2 linked regions of the Homo sapiens genome follow. The protein of the gene in region 1 purifies or fractionates together with the protein of each later gene. This does not show direct contact. Each region holds a gene or a part of one and is shown in the gene's direction. Other genes may lie near its edges.

The links.
Region 2: the proteins of SEPTIN12 (region 1) and PDS5B purify together in Homo sapiens (affinity purification with mass spectrometry; 3 studies listed by BioGRID and IntAct, with this or other methods). This does not show direct contact.

What each region holds. Positions count from the first base shown.
Region 1 is NC_000016.10:4,777,073-4,786,672, reverse strand, and holds the end of SEPTIN12 (septin-12), read left to right. Parts: intron 1-567; coding exon 568-693; intron 694-784; coding exon 785-866; intron 867-2,604; coding exon 2,605-2,742; intron 2,743-2,906; coding exon 2,907-3,024; intron 3,025-3,115; coding exon 3,116-3,211; intron 3,212-6,886; coding exon 6,887-6,983; intron 6,984-8,535; coding exon 8,536-8,587; intron 8,588-8,674; coding exon 8,675-8,876; 3' UTR 8,877-9,067; downstream 9,068-9,600. UniProt on the Homo sapiens protein: Filament-forming cytoskeletal GTPase. Involved in spermatogenesis. Involved in the morphogenesis of sperm heads and the elongation of sperm tails probably implicating the association with alpha- and beta-tubulins.
Region 2 is NC_000013.11:32,762,756-32,772,355, forward strand, and holds part of PDS5B (sister chromatid cohesion protein PDS5 homolog B), read left to right. Parts: intron 1-1,733; coding exon 1,734-1,839; intron 1,840-7,365; coding exon 7,366-7,805; intron 7,806-7,895; coding exon of another isoform or gene 7,896-7,898; coding exon 7,899-8,006; intron 8,007-9,600. UniProt on the Homo sapiens protein: Regulator of sister chromatid cohesion in mitosis which may stabilize cohesin complex association with chromatin. May couple sister chromatid cohesion during mitosis to DNA replication.

The sequences.
Region 1 (9,600 bases):
AATTAAAAAACAGTGCAAGGCCGGGTGTGGTGGCTCACGCCTGTAATCCCAGCACTTTGGGAGGCTGAGGCAGGCGGATCATGAGGTCAGGAAATCAAGACCATCCTGGCTAACATGGTGAAACCCCGTCTCTACTAAAAATACAAAAAAATTAGCCAGGCGTGGTGGCGGGCGCCTGTAGTCCCAGCTACTTGGGAGGCTGAGACAGGGGAATGGCGTGAATCTGGGAGGCGGAGCTTGCAGTGAACCGAGATCCCACCATCGCGCTCCAGCCTGGGTGACAGAGCGAGACTGCGTCTCAAAAAAAAAAAAAAAAAAAGCAGTGCAAAAATCAGCTGGGTATGGTGGCGTGTGCCTACAGTCCCAGCTACTAGGGAGGCCGAGGTGCGAGAATCACTAGAGTCTGGGAAGGTCGAGGCTGCAGTGAACGGGGATTGCATCATTGCACTCCAGCCTGGGTGACAGAGTGAGAACCTGTCTCCAAAAATAAAATAGAAAAGTAAAGAGTTAGAGAAAAACTGCCTAAAACGCCCACCCTAACTGCTGTCATCCGGTTGCCACTCCCAGGGCAAAGCGGGCTGGGCAAGTCCACGATGGTGAACACGCTGTTCAAGTCCAAAGTGTGGAAGTCAAACCCACCGGGCTTGGGGGTGCCCACACCCCAGACGCTGCAGCTGCATTCACTGACCCATGGTGAGTGAGCCCCTGCCCACACCTCACCCCACCCTGCCCCACCCCATCCCACCTGGGTCCAGTCTCTCCCGACTCTGCTCTCCCTCCACAGTCATAGAGGAGAAGGGTGTGAAGCTGAAGCTGACGGTGACGGACACGCCCGGCTTCGGGGACCAGATCAACAATGACAACTGGTAGGTTCTCTCTCTTTTTTTTTTTTTTTAGGCAGAGTTTCACTCTTGTCACCCAGGCTGGAGTGCAATGGCATGATCTCGGCTCACTGCAACCTCCACCTCCCAGGTTCAAGTGATTCTCCTGCCTCAGCCTCCCGAAGTAGCTGGGATTACAGGCGCCCGCCACCACGCCCAGCTAATTTTTTTTGTATTTTTAGTTGAGATGGGGTTTCACCATGTTGGCCAGGCTGGTCTTGAACTCCTGACCTCAGATGATCCACCCGCCTCGGCCTCCCAAAGTGCTGGGATTACAGGCATGAGCCACTGTGCCCGCAACAAGTGGTGGGTTCTCAAAGGTGGGGGCCAAGCCATGGCTGTCCCCTCCTGTCCGTGCCCCTCCCCCTTCAACCTTTGGGAAACACCCCAGACCTGGAACAGCCAGGCTGTGTGATCTTTTTTTTTTTTGAGACAGAATCTAGCTCTTGTCGCCCAGGCCAGAGTGCAGTGACACAATCTCGGCTCACTGCAACCTCTGCCTCCTGGGTTCAAGCAATTTCCGGCTAATTTTTTTTTTTTTTAAGACAGACTCGCTCTTGTCACCCAGGCCAGAGTGCAGTGGCACAATCTCTGCTCACTGCAACCTCCGCCTCCCGGGGTTCAAGCAATTCTCCTGCCTCAGCCTCCCAAGTAGCTGGGATTACAGACATCCGCCAACACGCTCGGCTACTTTTTTGAATTTATTTAGTAGAGACGGGGTTTCACCACGTTGGCCAGGCTGGTCTCAAACTCCTGACCTCGGGTGGTCCGCCCACCTCAGTCTCCCAAAGTGCTGGGATTACAGGTGTGAGCCACTGCACCCGGCCCAATTTTTGTATTTTTAGTAGAGACGGGGATTTCCCCATGTTGGCCAGGCTGGTCTCGAACTACTGACCTCAGGTGATCCACTTGCTTCAGCCTCCCAAAGCACTGGGATTACACGCATAAGCCACCGCACCTGGCCCTGGTTTCATTTTATTTATTTATTTATTTATTTATTTATTTATTTATTTATTTATTTAGAGACAGTGTCTCAGTCTGTTTCCCAGGCTGGAGTGCAGTGGCGAGATCATGGCTCACTGCAGCCTTGACCTCCCCAAGCTCAAGGACCCTCCTGCCTCAGCCTCCTGAGTAGCTGTGACCACAGGCACGTGCCACCCCACCGAGCTAATTTGTGTATTTTTTGTAGAGTTGGCGTTTCCCCATGTTGCCCAGGCTAGCCTCGAATTCCTGGGCTCGAGCGATCCTCCTGCCTCCGCCTCCCAAAGTGCTGGGATTACAGGCATGAGCCATCGGGCCTGGCCTGACACCTGTTTTTAAAAGGATCTGTTTGGCTACTTACAGTGTTGACAATACCCAAGAGGGGAAGGGACTCGAAGAGGAGGAGGGAGACCCCTGCAACCATCAGGCGCGATTCCTTGGTGGTTTGGGCCCAGCTGTGGCCCTTTAATACAGTTAATGCTCACCCCTCCCTTACTTGCAACGTAGGTGCTACTATTGTCTCCATTTTACAGACAGTGAAGCCGAGAATGGCAGGAGGTCTCCCTGTGTGTCTCTGATGATGCAGGGAAGTGGGGGAAAGTACCGGGGTGACCCACAGGTCCCGGGCCAACCGGGACGATTCGTCGTCCCAAGGGAGGACCGCCCAGAGGACACAGAGGAGAGGGGTGGGGCTCTCTGGGCACAGCACAGTTCTGAGGGGAGGGTCCACCTCCCGCCTCAGCTGGGACCCCATCCTGGGCTACATCAACGAGCAATACGAGCAGTACCTGCAGGAGGAGATCCTCATCACCCGCCAGCGCCACATCCCAGACACCCGGGTGCACTGCTGCGTGTACTTTGTACCACCCACTGGGCACTGGTGAGGGGGCTGCACCTGCAAGGCGAGGACCACCTGCACGGGGCAGGGAGGAGGAGAAGGGGTCCCCACCATGGGCTGCCGGCTGCCCCCACCCCCGTGCCCTGCTGCTGTCGTTTATACACTCACCACCACCGCCACCCCCATCACTGCCCTGCCTCCGGCAGCCTGCGGCCCCTGGACATTGAGTTCCTGCAGCGGCTGTGCCGGACTGTGAATGTGGTGCCCGTGATTGCCAGGGCCGACAGCCTGACCATGGAGGAGCGAGAGGCCTTCAGGCGCAGGGTGATCTGGATGCCCGGGCAGGGCTGGGGTCAGCGGGGGCAGAGGGCAGAGTGGGCAGGGTGGGCTGAGGTCACCTGTGTGGGATCTCCAGATCCAGCAGAACCTGAGGACCCACTGCATCGACGTCTACCCCCAGATGTGCTTTGACGAGGACATCAATGACAAAATCCTCAACAGCAAGTTACGGGTGAGAGGCTGTGGGGCGGGAGGCGGGCGAGGTGATTTCCTTCCCACACATCCTTTCCATCCAAAGACTCATCTTTCTCTACATCTCAGGGAAATGTGCACATATTCCTAGCAGATATGATTCTCTACTCATCCACAAGCTCAAGGTGAGCAAGAAATAACAGCTCACACTAACAACCCACAGAATCGGAGAAAATGTCTGCGAATCACATACCCAATAAGGGGCTTGTATCCTGAATATATAGAGAACATTGGGCCGGGCACAGTGGCTCACGCCTGTAATCCCAGCAGTTTGGGAGGCCGAGGCAGGCAGATCGCTTGAGGTCAGGAGTTGGAGACCAGCCTGGCCAACATGGTGAAACCTTGTCTCTGCCAAAAATGCAAAAAATTGGCTGGGTGTGGTGGTGCACGCCTTTAGTCCCAGCTACTCAGGAGGCTGAAGCGGGAGAATTTTGAAACTGGGAGGCAGAGGTTGCAGTGAGTGAGCTGAGATGGCGCCATTGCACTCCAGCCTGGGCAAGAAGAGTGAAACTCCATCTCAGAAAAAAAAAATGTGTTGGCCGGGCGCAGTGGCTCAGCCCTGTAATCCCTGCACTTTGGGAGGCCGAGGTGGGTGGATCACCTGAGGTCAGGAGTTCGAGACCAGCCTGGCCAACATGACGAAACCCCGTCTCTACTAAAAATACAAGAAATCAGCTGGGCGTGGTGGTGGGTGCCTGTAAGCCCAGCTACTCAGGAGGCTGAGGCAGGAGAATCGGTTGAATCTTGGAGGTGGAGGTTACGGTGAGCCGAGATTGCGCCACTGCACCCCAGCCTGGGCAACAAGAGCAAAACTCCAGCTTAAAAAAAAAAGTGCTGTGGAAGATGTGGAGGAACTGAAACCCTCACCTACTGCTGGAGGGAAAGTAAAATGGCTCAGCCACTTTGGAAAACAGTCTGGTGGTTCCTCAAATGCTTAAACATGCAGTTACTCTATGACCCAGCAACTGAACTCCTACGTGTATACCCAAAAGAAACAAAAATGTACATTCACAGAAAAATGTGTACGTGAATGTTCACAGCAGCATTATTTATTTTAGCCCCGAAAGTGGAAGCAACCCAAATATGCATCAACAGATGAGTGGGGAAACACAGTGCGGCCTATTCCCTACCATGGACTATCCCTTAACCATGAAAAGCAATGAAGTTCACCCTTTAAAAGTGTACAGTTCAAGGCTGGGCTCAGTGGCTCATGCCTGTAATCCCAGCACTTTGGGAAGCTGAGGTGGGCAGATCACTTGCGGCCAGGGGTTCGAGACCAGCCTGGCTAACATGGTGAAACTCTGTCTCTACTAAAAATACAAAATTAGCTGCGTGTGGTGGCACGCACCTGTAATCCCAGCTACTGGGGAGACTGAGGCAGGAGAATTGCTTGAACCTGGAAGGTGAAGGTTGCAGTGAGCAGAGATTGTGACACTGCACTCCAGCCTGGGCAAGGGAGTGAGACCCTGTCTCAAAAAAAAAAAAAAAAAAAAAAAAAGGCCGGGCACGGTGGCTCACACCTGTAATCCCAGCACTTTGGGCGGCTGAGGTGGGCAGATTACCTGAGGTCGGGAGTTCGAGACCAGCCTGACCGACATGGAGAAATCCCGTCTCTCCTAAAAATACAAAATTAGCCGGGTGTGGTGGTGCATGCCTGTAATCCCAGCTACTTAGGAGGCTGAGGCAGGAGAATCACTTGAACCCAGGAGATGGAGATTGCAGTGAGCTGAGATCACACCGTTGCACCCCAGCCTGGGCAAGGGAGTGAGACCCTGTCTCAAAAAAAAAAAAAAAAATGAAGCACTGTCACCCTGTCACCTGCCTGCTACAGCGTGGGGGAACCTTGTAAACATGTTTCTCAGACAAAAATCAGTCAGACACAAAAGGTCACGTATTATGGGATTCCATTTATATGAAATGTCCCAAATAGGCATAGGCAAATCTATAGAGACAGAAAGTAGATTGGTGGTAGTCAGGGGCTGTGGGGAAGGGAGAAATGGGGAGTGATTGCTAAAAGGTATGGGGTTTTTTTGGGGGGACGTGATGAAAACGTTGTGAAATTAGATTGCGATGATGGTTGCATAACCCTGGTCAAATACTAAAAACCCCCGTACCGTACAATGTTTTGTTTGTTTTGTTTTTAATGTTGTTTTTTTTATGAGATAGGGTCTTTTTTTTTTTTTTAGATGGAGTCTCCCTCTGTCACCCAAGCTGGAGTATAGTGGCGTGATCTCCGCTCACTGCAACCCCTGCCTCCTGGGTTCAAGCGATTCTCCTGCCTCAGCCTCCTGAGTAGCTGGGACTATAGGTGCACAATACCACGCCTGGCTAATTATTGTCTTTTTGGTAGAGATGGGGTTTCACTATTTCAGCCAGGGTGATCTCGATCTCCTGACCTTGTGATCCACCCATCTCAGCCTCCCAAAGTGCTGGGATTATAGGCGTGAGCCACCGTGCCCAGCAGAGACAGGGTCTTGTTCTGTGGCCCAGGCTGGGGTGCAGTGGCAGGATCTCCGTTCACAGCAACCTCCAACCTCCTGGGTTCAGGTGATTCTCCCACCTCAGCCTCCTGAGTAGCTGGGATTACAGGCATGCGCCACCACACCCAGCTAATTTTTTATTTTTCCTAGAGACAGGGTTTCACCATGTTGACCAGGCTGGTCTTGAAGTCCTGACCTCAGGTGATCTGCCTGCCTTCACCTCCCAAAATGCTAGGATTACAGGTGTGAGCCACCACGCCCAATATTATCAACATCCACATTACTCCCCATCACAGATGAATTCAGAAGTAAAAACCCATATATGTCACTTCGGAGTTTGCAAGTTTGAATTTCTGCTTCTGGCCATGAGCAAGTAAACAACTGGAGTTTACGGTAGGGTTCAACAACCTTTTCTGCAAAGGGCCAGGTAGTAAATGTTTTAGACTTTCTGGGCCGTAGGGTCTCTGTTGTGATGATTCAACTCTGATGTCATGGTTCAAGAGCAGCCATAGACAAAAATGACTCATAGGCTCAACTATGTGCCAATAAAACTTTATATATAGGAAGACAGGCAGGCTGGGTGTGGTAGCTCACTCCTATAATCCCACCACTTTGGAAGGCAGAGGCGGGAGGATCACTTGAGCCCAGGAGTTAGAGACCAGCCTGGGCAACACAGAGAACTCATCTCTACTAAAAATGTTTAAAAAGTAGCCAGGCATGGTGGTGCACACCTATGGTCCTCACTCCTCAGGGGACTGAGGCGGGGATATCACTTGAGCCCAGGAGGTCAAGGCTGCAGTGAGCTATGGGATTATAGGTGTGAGCTATATAATACGCTATATAATATAATGGGATTATAAGCTCAGCTAATTTTTTAGTTTTTGCAGAGATGGCCTTTCACCATGTTGCCCAGGCTGGTCTCAAACTCCTAGGGCTCAAGTGATCCTCCCACCTCGGCCTCCTAAAGTGCTGAAATTACAGGCAAGAGCTACCTCACTCAGCCAGAGGCACCAATTAGACTTTATGTCTTTGAACTTGGGAATTCTGTGCACTTTCTACCATGTTCCCTCCTCGAAAAGGATAGGACTCCCCTCTCCTGCCTGGGTGCCTTGACTTTTCTTCTCTTCTCCCCAGCGAAGTCAATCCTCCCATCTCTGTGTCTTCTCCTTTCCCAGGACCGAATCCCTTTTGCCGTGGTAGGGGCTGACCAAGAGCACCTGGTGAACGGGAGGTGTGTCCTGGGCCGGAAGACCAAGTGGGGCATCATTGAAGGTCAGTGCGGGGCCCCTGGGTAGGATGCAGGTGGGGTCAGTTTGGAAACCAGAGCAGCCTTGGGCAACCTTCGCACCCATCACAGGGCACAGAAAGGTGAAGCCCACTAGACAAAGAGCCCTGGGGAATGGTCCCTCTTTCCAGCTGGGAGGCTGTGGCAAGTTTCCGGACCCTCTGGGCCTCAGTTTCCTCACAGTAAAGTGGGCATCACAGTGCATCAACTTCCTAGGGTGTTGGAGCGGGGAGAACCACCATTTTGCACAATGCCCAATACCCAAGGCTGCCCTAGTGGCTGGCCGGAAATTACGATGGGCCTACTGTGTATCAGGCACCGCTATGTGCAGTTACTGCAGTGCACGGTAAAGGGAGGACTGACAGGGTCCCTGTCCCCATAGAGCTGACAGGACAAGGACAGGTCGGGGAGGCACAGTGAAGGCGATTGTGGCGGGAGGGAGAGGAGACTGCCTTAGGGAGCTAGGGAAAGTGACACAGGAGGGGCAGCGAGGATGTAGCCCCTGATGTATTATTATTATTTTTTATTTTTATTTTTTTGAGATGGAGTCTCGCAGTGTCACCCGAGCTGGAGTGCGGTGGCGTGATCTCGGCTCACTGCAACCTCCGCCTCCTGGGTTCAAGTGATTCTCCTGTCTCAGCCTCCCAAAGAGCTGGGATTACAGGCACCTGCCACCACGCCCAGCTAATTTTTTGTATGTTTATGAGAGACGGGGTTTCACTATGTTGCCAGGCTGGTCTCAAACTCCTGACCTCGTGATCTGCCCGCCTCGGCCTCCCAAAGTGCTGGGATTACAGGCGTGTGCCACCGCGCCCGGTCAGGTGATGTATTATTATAATTATTAGAAATATTCTATACTATATATATATATTTTTTTGAGACAGAGTCTTGCTTTGTCACTCAGGCTGGAGTGCAGTGGAGCGATCTTGGCTCACTGCAACTTCCGCCTCTCAGGTTCAAGCGATTCTCCTGCCTCAGCCTCCCAAATAGCTGGGACTACAGATTATACCACCACACCCGGCTAATTTTTGTATTTTTAGTAGAGACGGGGCTTCACTATGTCGTCCAGGCTGGTCTCAAACTCCTGACCTCAGGTGATCCACCCAACTCAGCCTCCCAAACTGCTGGGATTATAGGCGTGAGCCACCGCGCCCAGCCAGAAATATACTATACTATTGCCTATGATATAGCACCCATGCTATCCGCAGAGGGTGGTTCCAGGACCCCCAGGGATACCAAAATCGGCAGATGCTCAAGTCCTACAGTGGGCACCCATGGATACAGAGGCCGAGTGTACATATAATACAATAATGATTGGTGGATTCATTCATTCTACAGCTATTTGTAGGAGCCGCCTGTACCAGGCACTGGGAACACAACAGTGGGTGAATGAATGAATGAACCAACAAAGGGAAGGCAGGATAGGGTAAAGAGAAATGTGGGAAAAGGGCTAAGGGAAATGGTGTCAGGTGGTGCATACAGTAGGCACTTACTCAGTGCTCACTAAGCAGCGCCCATACTGAGTCCCATGTCTTGCAGTGGAGAACATGGCGCACTGTGAATTTCCTCTCCTGAGAGACCTGCTTATCCGGTGAGGGTGTGGGGAGCCTGGGGCTAGGGGGCTGGCGAGGGGCCCTGGGGACACCACCATCGGGGCTGACCGTCTCCGGTCCCCCAGCTCCCACCTCCAAGACCTGAAGGACATAACCCACAACATCCACTATGAGAACTACCGCGTCATCAGACTCAATGAAAGCCACCTGCTGCCCCGCGGGCCCGGCTGGGTGAACCTGGCCCCGGCCTCCCCAGGACAGCTGACCACCCCCCGGACCTTCAAGGTCTGCAGGGGGGCCCATGACGATTCTGATGATGAGTTCTGACCACCGGCGGATCCCGGGGCTGCTGGGCTTCCTGAGTCCCCAGCGGCTCTCAACACACACCTATGTACCAGAGCATCTATTAAATGTGAGCCTTGCTTTTTATGAAAAGCTGTGCTTTGAAAACAAAAGGCATTTTGTAAATGACTTCTTTGAGCTATCCACAAATAAAAAGGCTGGGTGTCACTCTGTTACCCAGGCTGGAGTACAGTGGCGCAATCATGACTCACTGCAGCCTCAAATTTCTGGGCTCAAGTGATCCTCCTGCCTCAGCCTCTCAAGTAGCCAAGACTATGGGCATGACACCACCTTGATGGGCTGATTTTTACCATTTTTTTTTGTAGAGATAAGGCCTCACTAGGTTGCTCAGGCTGGTCTTTAGCTGACCTCAGGTGATCCTTCCGCCTCAGCCTTCCAAAACACTGGGATTACCACTGCTGCCAACCAAGTATGTTTTTGTGGTGGTTGTTGGTTGTTGTTTCTGAGATGGAGTTTTCTGGGGTTTTTTTTTTTTTGTTTTGTCTTGTTTTTTGAGATGGAGTTTCGCTCTTGTTGCCCAGGCTGGAGTGCGATGGCGTGATCTCGGCTCGCTACAACCTCTGCCTCCCGGGTTCAAGTCATTCTCCTGCCTCAGCATCCCAGGTAGCTGGGGACTACAGGCATACACCATCATGCCTGGCTAATTTTTGTATTTTTAGTAGAGATGGGGTTTCACCATGCTGGCCAG
Region 2 (9,600 bases), on another chromosome or scaffold:
ATTTAGTTCATTTTCTTTCTTTAATTATTGTCGTATTTGACTAGTTTACTTCCTTATTCCTCTCAATTGTGTATATTGTATCACTGCTAGATAATCCTTTAAAAATACTACTGTCGTGATGTTATTTCATTGCTCAGAGATCTTAATTGGCTTCCCTTGTTTGCTTTCAAGACAAGTATAATTTCACCCTCTCCTTATCATCCATTTGTTATTCAACACAAAAGTATCCTAATTTATACTTTTTCAATATAGTTTTCTTTAAACTTTCTTTCAATGTTTGACCAATCTGTTTTGTTATTTTTTTCTTCCAAATTCCGTCTGTTTAGTGGGACTGTTTGCAGGGGAATGAAGTAGGTATATTTGAGAAACCTGTTTGGTTGGAGAGTAGGAATGAGGGAAAAATTATGAGAGGAAGTTGAGAGGTAGTCTGATTATGTTTGGACTTCGTAAACCATGGTAAGGAGTTTGGATTTGATTTTAAGTGCAACTGAAAGATTTGCCAGGGAGTCTAGCAATCTCATTTGTGGTTTTTAAAAAAAATTGCCCTGATGATTTGTGCAGAATGTACTATAGAGGAGCTAGAATTGAGGTAGAAAAAGCAATTAGGAGTCAGCGAATCATAATCTATGGCAGGGATGAAGAGGGAAGAAGATGGTAAATAGTCAAATTTCAGATTTTTTTTTTAAGAGTAGTGAAATGCAGTAGTGAGAAGGGAGGAGTGAGTTAAAACAAGGAGTTTGATGTCTAACTAACCATGAGCAATCAGTTGAGAATAACTCACTGCCTTTCGACCACCCTCAGATTTATTTTGATGTTAGATAGATCAGATGATCTTTCTAATGGATTAGATGTGAACAGTTAGGGAAAGGGACGATTTAAGGGTGTATCCTGGGCTTTTTACCTGAATAACTGGAGAGATGGTGGTACCGTTTACTGAGATACAGAAGCCTTGAGGAAGAACAGGCTCTGTTTGTATGTATGTGTTTTGGGGAAGTGGAAATAAGAAGAGTGTTCAAATAACTGTTTTGGCTACATTAAAGATCAGGTGCCTATTAGAATTTCAAGTGAAGTGTTGAGTAGACAATTGGATATGTGAGTTTAGAACTCAGCGTAGCTGGACCAGAGATTGAGATTTAGAGTTCAACAACATATAAATAGTTTTAAAAACTAGATAAAGGTGAGACCACCCAGGACAGAGGCCTGGACCTTTATATGAATGCCAACTCTATGCCTGGCACTGATTTAAGTGCTTGGCATACATTGGTAAGTAAAATTGATTGACACAAGATTCATGCTTATATTCTAACGGGAAGGCAGTCAGTACGTAATAAATGTAATAATTATAGTGTGTTAGAGGGTGTTAAATGCTACAGAGAGAAGAAAAAATAGAATAGGGTAAGGAACCAGGGCAGGTTGCAGTGTAGACCAAGCTAAACTGCCAACGAGAAAAGTTTTAATTGGTTCTATGATCTGACCCCAAAATAGAATTTAGGTTTTAAAAAGACTTAGAAAAATATTAGATTTAAATTTTTGATTTTTAAAATTTTCTCACTATATTAAATTAAATGAGCTTCATTGCTTGTTGAGTTGGTACCAAATATGGTAGAATGAAACTGATTCATTTTTGAAAAGAACGAAATTTTTTCCATAAATCTGTAAAGCTACACTAGGAACAGAAAAAGCTTGTAAGGTTATTTGATTGTAATAACAATTACAAATGTCTGTATTAAAAGGCTTGATAGTTCTGAAATGGATCACAGTGAAAATGAAGATTACACAATGTCTTCACCTTTGCCGGGGAAAAAAAGTGACAAGAGAGACGACTCTGATCTTGTAAGGGTGAGATATTTGCATTGATTTTATAATAATATTAATGATAATTTTACTTAGTAATGTTTACACTGAAACCAGTTAACATGACTATCAAATTTACATTTTATTTTATTTTATTTTAGTGGTTTTAACCACAAACCTGAGTTTATAATTATCCTCTATGTAATTTAAGTATATAGAATCTGTGCTTCTTATCAATGTGATAAGTAATCTCAATTGTTCAGATTTTTGGTATTAGACTTGCCAGTTGCATACTCAACTGCTTGGTTTTTGTATTGTTTTCCTCATTTGCTTGTGGTTTTGTTGTTGTTGTTGTTTTTGTTAACATAGGATATTTAGACTTAGCCTTAGAGAAGGGGAATGGAATGAGGACCCTTAAAACTTCTTTCATTTAATTTATTTCTTGAGCCTTTTACTAAATAAGCTGCTGTTAAAGGTAGAAAATGCTATAGTTCTCGTCAAGTCCTTGTTCAGTTTTTAAATCTTAATAGAAATGATAAAATGATAACTTGTATGATAGACAGTTTGTGTTGTTTTAAGACAAATTTGTTAAGTTTTAGCATAGACACAAAATACAGTTATGTCTTCTAACACAACTCAATGGACTTAACTGGGTTTGTTTTGACTTTACAGTTCAGCTTCAGATCATTTCCTTAATAACTAATTAGGCTATCAGAATCAATTTTCTTATCTGTATGTAAATTATGGATACTTAGCTGGTAAGCTTTATCAGAGTAAGTGACTTAGCCAAAATGAATTGCTGCTGCTGTTTCATTGTTACGACTTTTGATTATGGTTATCATAATAATAAAAGTTAAAATGTTCGAATCTACGTGATTAAGAGAGGTGAGAGGTTAACCAAGAAATAATTACTTTTACTTTCTCTAAAATATTACTGCCCATCTTCCACGAGTCCAGCATTACACATGCCAAGAAGTTTATTTTCATGTTTCTCCAATAACTTATTTTGGCAGAGTGTTTATTTCCATTTAGAAAGAATTATTCTTTTTTGTTTTGTTTTGTTTTGTTTTTTGAGACACAGTCTCACTTTGTCGCCCAGGCTGGAGTGCAGTGGCACGATCTGGGCTCACTGCAACCTCCGCTTCCCGGGTTCAGGTGATTCTCTTGCATCACCCTCCTGGGTAACTGGGACCACAGGCATGTGCCAGCATGCGTAGCCAATTTTTGTATTTTTTAAAGGCGGGGTTTCACCATGTTGGCCAGGCTGGTCTCAAACGCCTGATGTCAGGTGATCTGCCTGCCTTGGCCTCCCAAAGTGCTGGGATTACAGGCTTGAGCCATACTGCCCGCTGTGAAAGAATTATTCTAAAATTTTATTGAATTCTAACTATGTATACTGTAAGTTACGATGTTTATTGGCTGTTTAAAATTTTCACATGAGCAAAATTAAGAATTGATCACTTAGCTTGGAAACAATCTTGTTATCTGGATTTACAGAAGAAAATCCTTGAATTGGAAAAGGTATTATGTCTTCTTAGTTCTCACTTACTGCAGAAATTCCTTTATTATTAATGAGAGCTGGTCACCACGTTGAAAATGCTTTAAGCAGAGAGCTCATGATGTATTTCATTTGTTGGAAAAGTCAACTAGGTCACTCATACCCACACCTATAGTGTACTACACTTATACCTTGGTGTTCCCATCCCCCAAAAGTTGGGAAACATGGTTTTTATTAATTCTTAATATTCTGTTATCCTATAAATTTTGCATCTGCTTTTACCTTTTGGGATAGTACAGAACAAAGTCTACTCTATTTTTCATAGAACTGTTTTGAATTTTTGAGCTCTTGAGACCTATTAGTATGATTGTAATGGAGGCCTTTTGCTATTTGTTGTGGCATGGATAATGTGTAACGTTAGGTCCAGTTTTAGAGGTGCTAGAAGAATCTTATTAATAAGCTAGTTTTGACTGAAGTGCCCTCAGAGAGATGAGTATTATGAGACACAAGTTGAATTTAAAGACCAGTAGATTATAATGAAAGAGCACGGTCTCATTTGCTTGTTACCAGCTTCTCATTGAAATTTCACAGCAAAGGAATTATTTTCCATATACGTTTGTATTTAAATATTTAGCTTTATAAATAAAATATTTTCCTGTCTTTTGCTTCTAACCTCGGTTTTATACTCCCTCTGTTCTTAAAACAGTGCAATGCAAAATGAAAAAGAAATAAGTAGTGGTGCTTTAGGAAACTAGATTAGTATTCTCAAGAAAGTAGACATTGGGTTTTCTTTTTACCACCAACCTTTTCCAGAGCTTAAAGGAAATCATCTACCTTTTTAGATCTTTGGACATCAAAAAGAATTATAGTAATTAAAATAAGAAGTGACATTTTAAATTTAGTTCTAATTTAACATTTCTTTTACCTTCTTATCTTTGAGTAAAAACAGTTAATTTTTAATTTGTGCACAAAACTCTAAATAAATAAAACAAACTAAATCCAGTCATGTATAGATCTTCCCCTCTCCTTAGAATGTAAGGATAGCTTAATGTTACCAAATCTTTTACTATGATAGTATATTAAATAAACCAAAGGGAAAACCAAAAACAAAATAATTTCAGATCATGCCAAGAGGACATAAATAAAACTTAAGATCCGTTCTTGACAAATAGGAACTTTTAGTAAACTAGTACCAGAAGGATACATCTTTAATGTGCTAAAAGTTTTGTCTATTTTAAATCAGTAGTCAATGCCATTCTTCCTAAAGGCAAAATACTTGAAGCATTCTTTTTAAAAATCAGGAACAAAACAAGCAACCTGCTGTCACCACTGTTTTTAAAAATTGCTCTAGAATGTTTGACCAATTGTTATTTTTGTAATCTTAGAAAAATAAAAGAAGCAATTGAAAATCTATCCCTACCTATGTATATATTTATGTTTGTAACTAACATTACTCTGATAATTTTGGTTTGTATCAGATGTACATTTAGGGGAAAAGGGATTATTTTCTTCATCACAAGAACCAGTGCAACAACAAACATAGATTGACTGATTGACAGATTCATAGATTTAAATATAACCTTTAAAAGAAATAGGGAGTACCTATATGTAGAAAATCTCAAAACTGAGATAGGGAGGACCTATATGTAGAAAATCTCAAAACTGGAAGACTTGAAGAGAGAGAAGACAGGCCATGTTCTTGTATAGGAGAAAGGAATAAAAAAGGATGAAAGTTTTTTTCAACTGAATATATAATTGCAAAATTCCAGCATGGTTTTGTTTCAAGTCTATGTGGAGGAATAAATAAATATAAAAGGAGGAGAAATAAAGGTAGGTTCAGCCCTACCAGATACATAATTATACTTAGTAAAATATTGTGCTTCTGTTATGATAGCCCAGAAATATTATTCTTGTTCAAAACATATAAAATAAAGGAAGCACTACAAATCATTGATTCTGAAATGGTTGGATGTGTCTTTGGGAGTGGAAAATCCAGTTTAGAATCTCATCTCACATTCTGTTCTAAAACAATACACAATAATGTCTTAGTCAGCTCAAGCTGCCATTATAAAATACCAAATACCACAGACTGGGTAGCTTAAACAACAGAACTATATTTTCTTACAGTTCTGGAGGCTGGAAGTACAAGATCAAGGTGCCAGCAGATTTGGTTCCTGATGAGGGCTGTCTTCCTGGGTTACAGATGCCACCTTCTCCTGTGTCCTCACATGAGAGGTGTGGGGTGGGAGGAAGAAGAAAGGCACCCAAGCTCACTGATGTTTCCTCTTATAAGGACACTAATCTCATCATGAGGGTGCCACCTCATGACCTCATCTCAACGAAATACCTCCCAAAGGCCCCATCTCCAAATACTGTCACATTGGGATTAGAGCTTGAACATACAATTTTTTTCTTTGGTGGTGGGGGCCACAATTCAGTCCAAAGCAAGTAAGAAATAACACTTAAAGGACAGGTGCAATGACACCTGTAATCCCAGCACTTTGGGAGGCCGAGGCAGGCGGATCACCTGAGTTTAGGAGTTTGAAACCAGCCTGGCCAACACGGCAAAACCCCATCTCTGCTAAAAATACAAAAATTAGCCACGCATGGTGGCACATGCCTCTAGTCCCAGCTACTCGGGAGGCTGAGGCAAGAGAATCGCTTGAACCCGGGAGGCAGAGGTTGCAGTGAGCCAAGATTGACCCACTGCACTCCAGCCTGGGTGACAGAGCGAGACTCTGTCTCAAAAAAAAAAAAAAGAAAAAAAAAAAAAGCTGGGTGCAGTGGCTCATGCCTGTAATCCCAGCACTTTGGGAGGCCGAGGCGGGCGGATCACAAGGTCAGGAGATTGAGACCATCCTGGCTAACACGGTGAAACCCCGTCTCTACTAAAAAAATACAAAAAAAAAAAAAAAAAAAAAAATTAGCCAGGCGTGGTTGCAGACACCTGTAGTCCCAGCTACTCGGGAGAAGGCTGAGACAGGAGAATGGCGTGAACCTGGGAGGCGGAGCTTGCAGTGAGCAGAGATGGTGCCACTGCACTCCAGCCTGGGTGACAGAGTGAGACTCCATCTCAAAAATAATAAAAGATAATATTAATAATAAAGAAATAACACTTAAAAATAAGCATAGAGGCATACACAAAAGCATAGAGGAATATAGAGAAAACCCACTAACACCGCAGTAGTCAAAGTTGACAAAGGACACAATACGAAGGATGTAATTAGGCAGTTCACATACAGGAAGCTCAATTTAAAGTTAGAAAAAGTTACAGATAATTCGATAGTTTTTGTTGTTTTCAGTGATTTTTGAAAATATAAATTGCGCAGACTTTTGGAAATTAACTTTGTATTATAAGTGTTCATACATACAATTTATTCTTGGGTCTTTGGAGAATTTCTTCAGCCTTCACGCTGGTTCACATATAGATTCTCTGAATATAGACTAGGATTTTATTTTAAATGTGAAAGCCACTGGTTTTTTGTTGTTTCTGTTGTTAATCAGTTAGTTATACCTAGAAAGAAGCAGTATTTCTAATTCAGAAGTGTTTCCAAAATTTATAATAAATGATGAATATGTTTACCTTTTGTATCTTGCAACCTCCATTTGTAAAATAATAGTTCTTTTATGATGTTGTAAGCATGTCATATAGTTAATATTTTATGTCTTACGCACTATGTGGTAAAATTAGAATTACTTAAATTGACTATCCAAACAGATACTTTAGTATAGTTGTCATTTAGGACCAAGCACTGAATTTATAATGCTCTTTTTAATGAGATAGCTCTTCACTAAAATTTATAATTTAGTAAGATACTGATCTTGAGAGGTTTCCTTTTAAGACACTCTAGCTGAAAAGTAAGAGTGCAAATGTACCCTTTTATCCCAGATAAGTTTTTAAAATTAAAAACTATAATAAAAGCAAATAAATACAGTTCTGGTGTATTTAAGAGCTGTATATTTTAGGTACATATCTAGGACAACATTAGATAACAGATTTTTTTGTTTCATTCCTCAAAATATGTATACTCACAATTTCATAACCATAAATTGTGATTTTTTTTTTCCCCTAGTCTGAATTGGAGAAGCCTAGAGGCAGGAAAAAAACGCCCGTCACAGAACAGGAGGAGAAATTAGGTATGGATGACTTGACTAAGTTGGTACAGGAACAGAAACCTAAAGGCAGTCAGCGAAGTCGGAAAAGAGGCCATACGGCTTCAGAATCTGATGAACAGCAGTGGCCTGAGGAAAAGAGGCTCAAAGAAGATATATTAGAAAATGAAGATGAACAGAATAGTCCGCCAAAAAAGGGTAAAAGAGGCCGACCACCAAAACCTCTTGGTGGAGGTACACCAAAAGAAGAGCCAACAATGAAAACTTCTAAAAAAGGAAGCAAAAAAAAATCTGGACCTCCAGCACCAGAGGAGGAGGAAGAAGAAGAAAGACAAAGTGGAAATACGGAACAGAAGTCCAAAAGCAAACAGCACCGAGTGTCAAGGAGAGCACAGCAGAGGTAAGCATGTGTAACTCTAAACTGCATCTGTTTCGTTACTATATTATAAATCATAATTTGATGCTATCCACATTTGGGTCTTCCCCAAAGCAGAGCAGAATCTCCTGAATCTAGTGCAATTGAATCCACACAGTCCACACCACAGAAAGGACGAGGAAGACCATCAAAAACGCCATCACCATCACAACCAAAAAAAAATGTGTAAGTTGTAAATATTACATTTCAAACCAATTTCAAATTATTTTGCAAAAGTTCCTAAATTTGTAAACATACATATTGCTGTATTTAAATTCCATATATTTAGCCCCATTACACTAGGTAAGATAAAATTTTTATAAACTTACCTTAGTGATTGATATCTCAATAAACTATCTTGTACATTTTTACAGGTGCAGGCAAATCTTCATAAATGAATACCAAATAGTATATTATTTCCTATACAGACTTTATGATATCTAAAGAAATCATAAGGTATTTTTAAATAATCACCACACATTGACCAGGTTGCCTTGTCATTCCACACTACAATTTTTTTTTTAAATGTTTCTCATTAGCACCTTTTCCTTTAAAAAAAGGAAAATAGGTCTTATGCTTCTGCTTTTATTCTTTGAACTTGTAGTAGGAAAGTAACAGGTACCATTTTTTAAAAATTATATCCATAGAAATTAACACATGTTGGTCTCAAGTGTTTGATATCTTGATTTTGTTTGTTTTCTAACCCAGTTCATTTATCTACATCAACATGTATATAGTTTTAGATGTTCACACAAACACATTTATAAGAGAGGTACAGTAAGAATCTGTACCTCAAATTTTAGTGTCACCAGAGTATCACTGCTGTAATTTGCAGATCTGACAGTGTTTTTTCTCCTTAGTTATGTGAGTGGAAATAGAGTAGCATGTCTTCTATTAGTCAGAAATTTAACACTTTTTCTGAGAGTAATCCCACCCATACATAATTACATCATGGCTCGACTTTTCAGAGTTGCCAATGTACTGTCATTAAATACTCAATTATCTTAGAGATTTTCCTATTCCTGTGTATTCCACAGGAAGAGGAAAAGTTGCCTGGGTGTCTAGCCAGTACTTCATGCCATCTTCCATGTAATTTTTCTATCAGGTTAAAAGTAAAGGTAAGTACATTTTTGTGGCAGCTTTATAAATGTGTTTGGATTCAACCAAATCACTATTTCTAAACAAAGGATTCTTAAGGAATCCTTTATTTAATAAAATACACATGAATGATGTAACAAGGAAATAACAAACCTCATAATTTTAGTTTGTTTATATTTGGACATCATAAAATTCAGGGTTTAAATGATTATTGTGCTCTCCTAAAATTACACAAGTCCTATGAATGTTCTAAACCAAACAAGTATTTCTTAAAAAAAAAAAAAAATTGATATGGAAGAAGATTCTGTAGTCTGTCTTGGAAGCCTATCTTCCTTTCACTGGGAAGCTCTTTCTAGAGCTAGTATACTAACATATGTTAGGATTTGTTTCTTTTTCTTGTTCTGACCTCAGTGAAATTGAAAAAGATTGTCATTATGTTTCATGTTATTTCTATAGTTTCATTAATCTCGAAAAACCAAACCAAGTAAAAAAATTGTTTGGTTCGAGCGTGAGTTAAAAAAATACATATTTTGGATTGCTTATAGAAGTGATGTTATGTTTCTAATTTTAAAAAATAAAGATTTATCAAGAGGGATCCATTTGATTAGATGGTTCTATTACATATTTTTTGATGCCTCCTGTGTTTCAGAGAGTACTAGGTGCTAGGGACACAAAACAGACG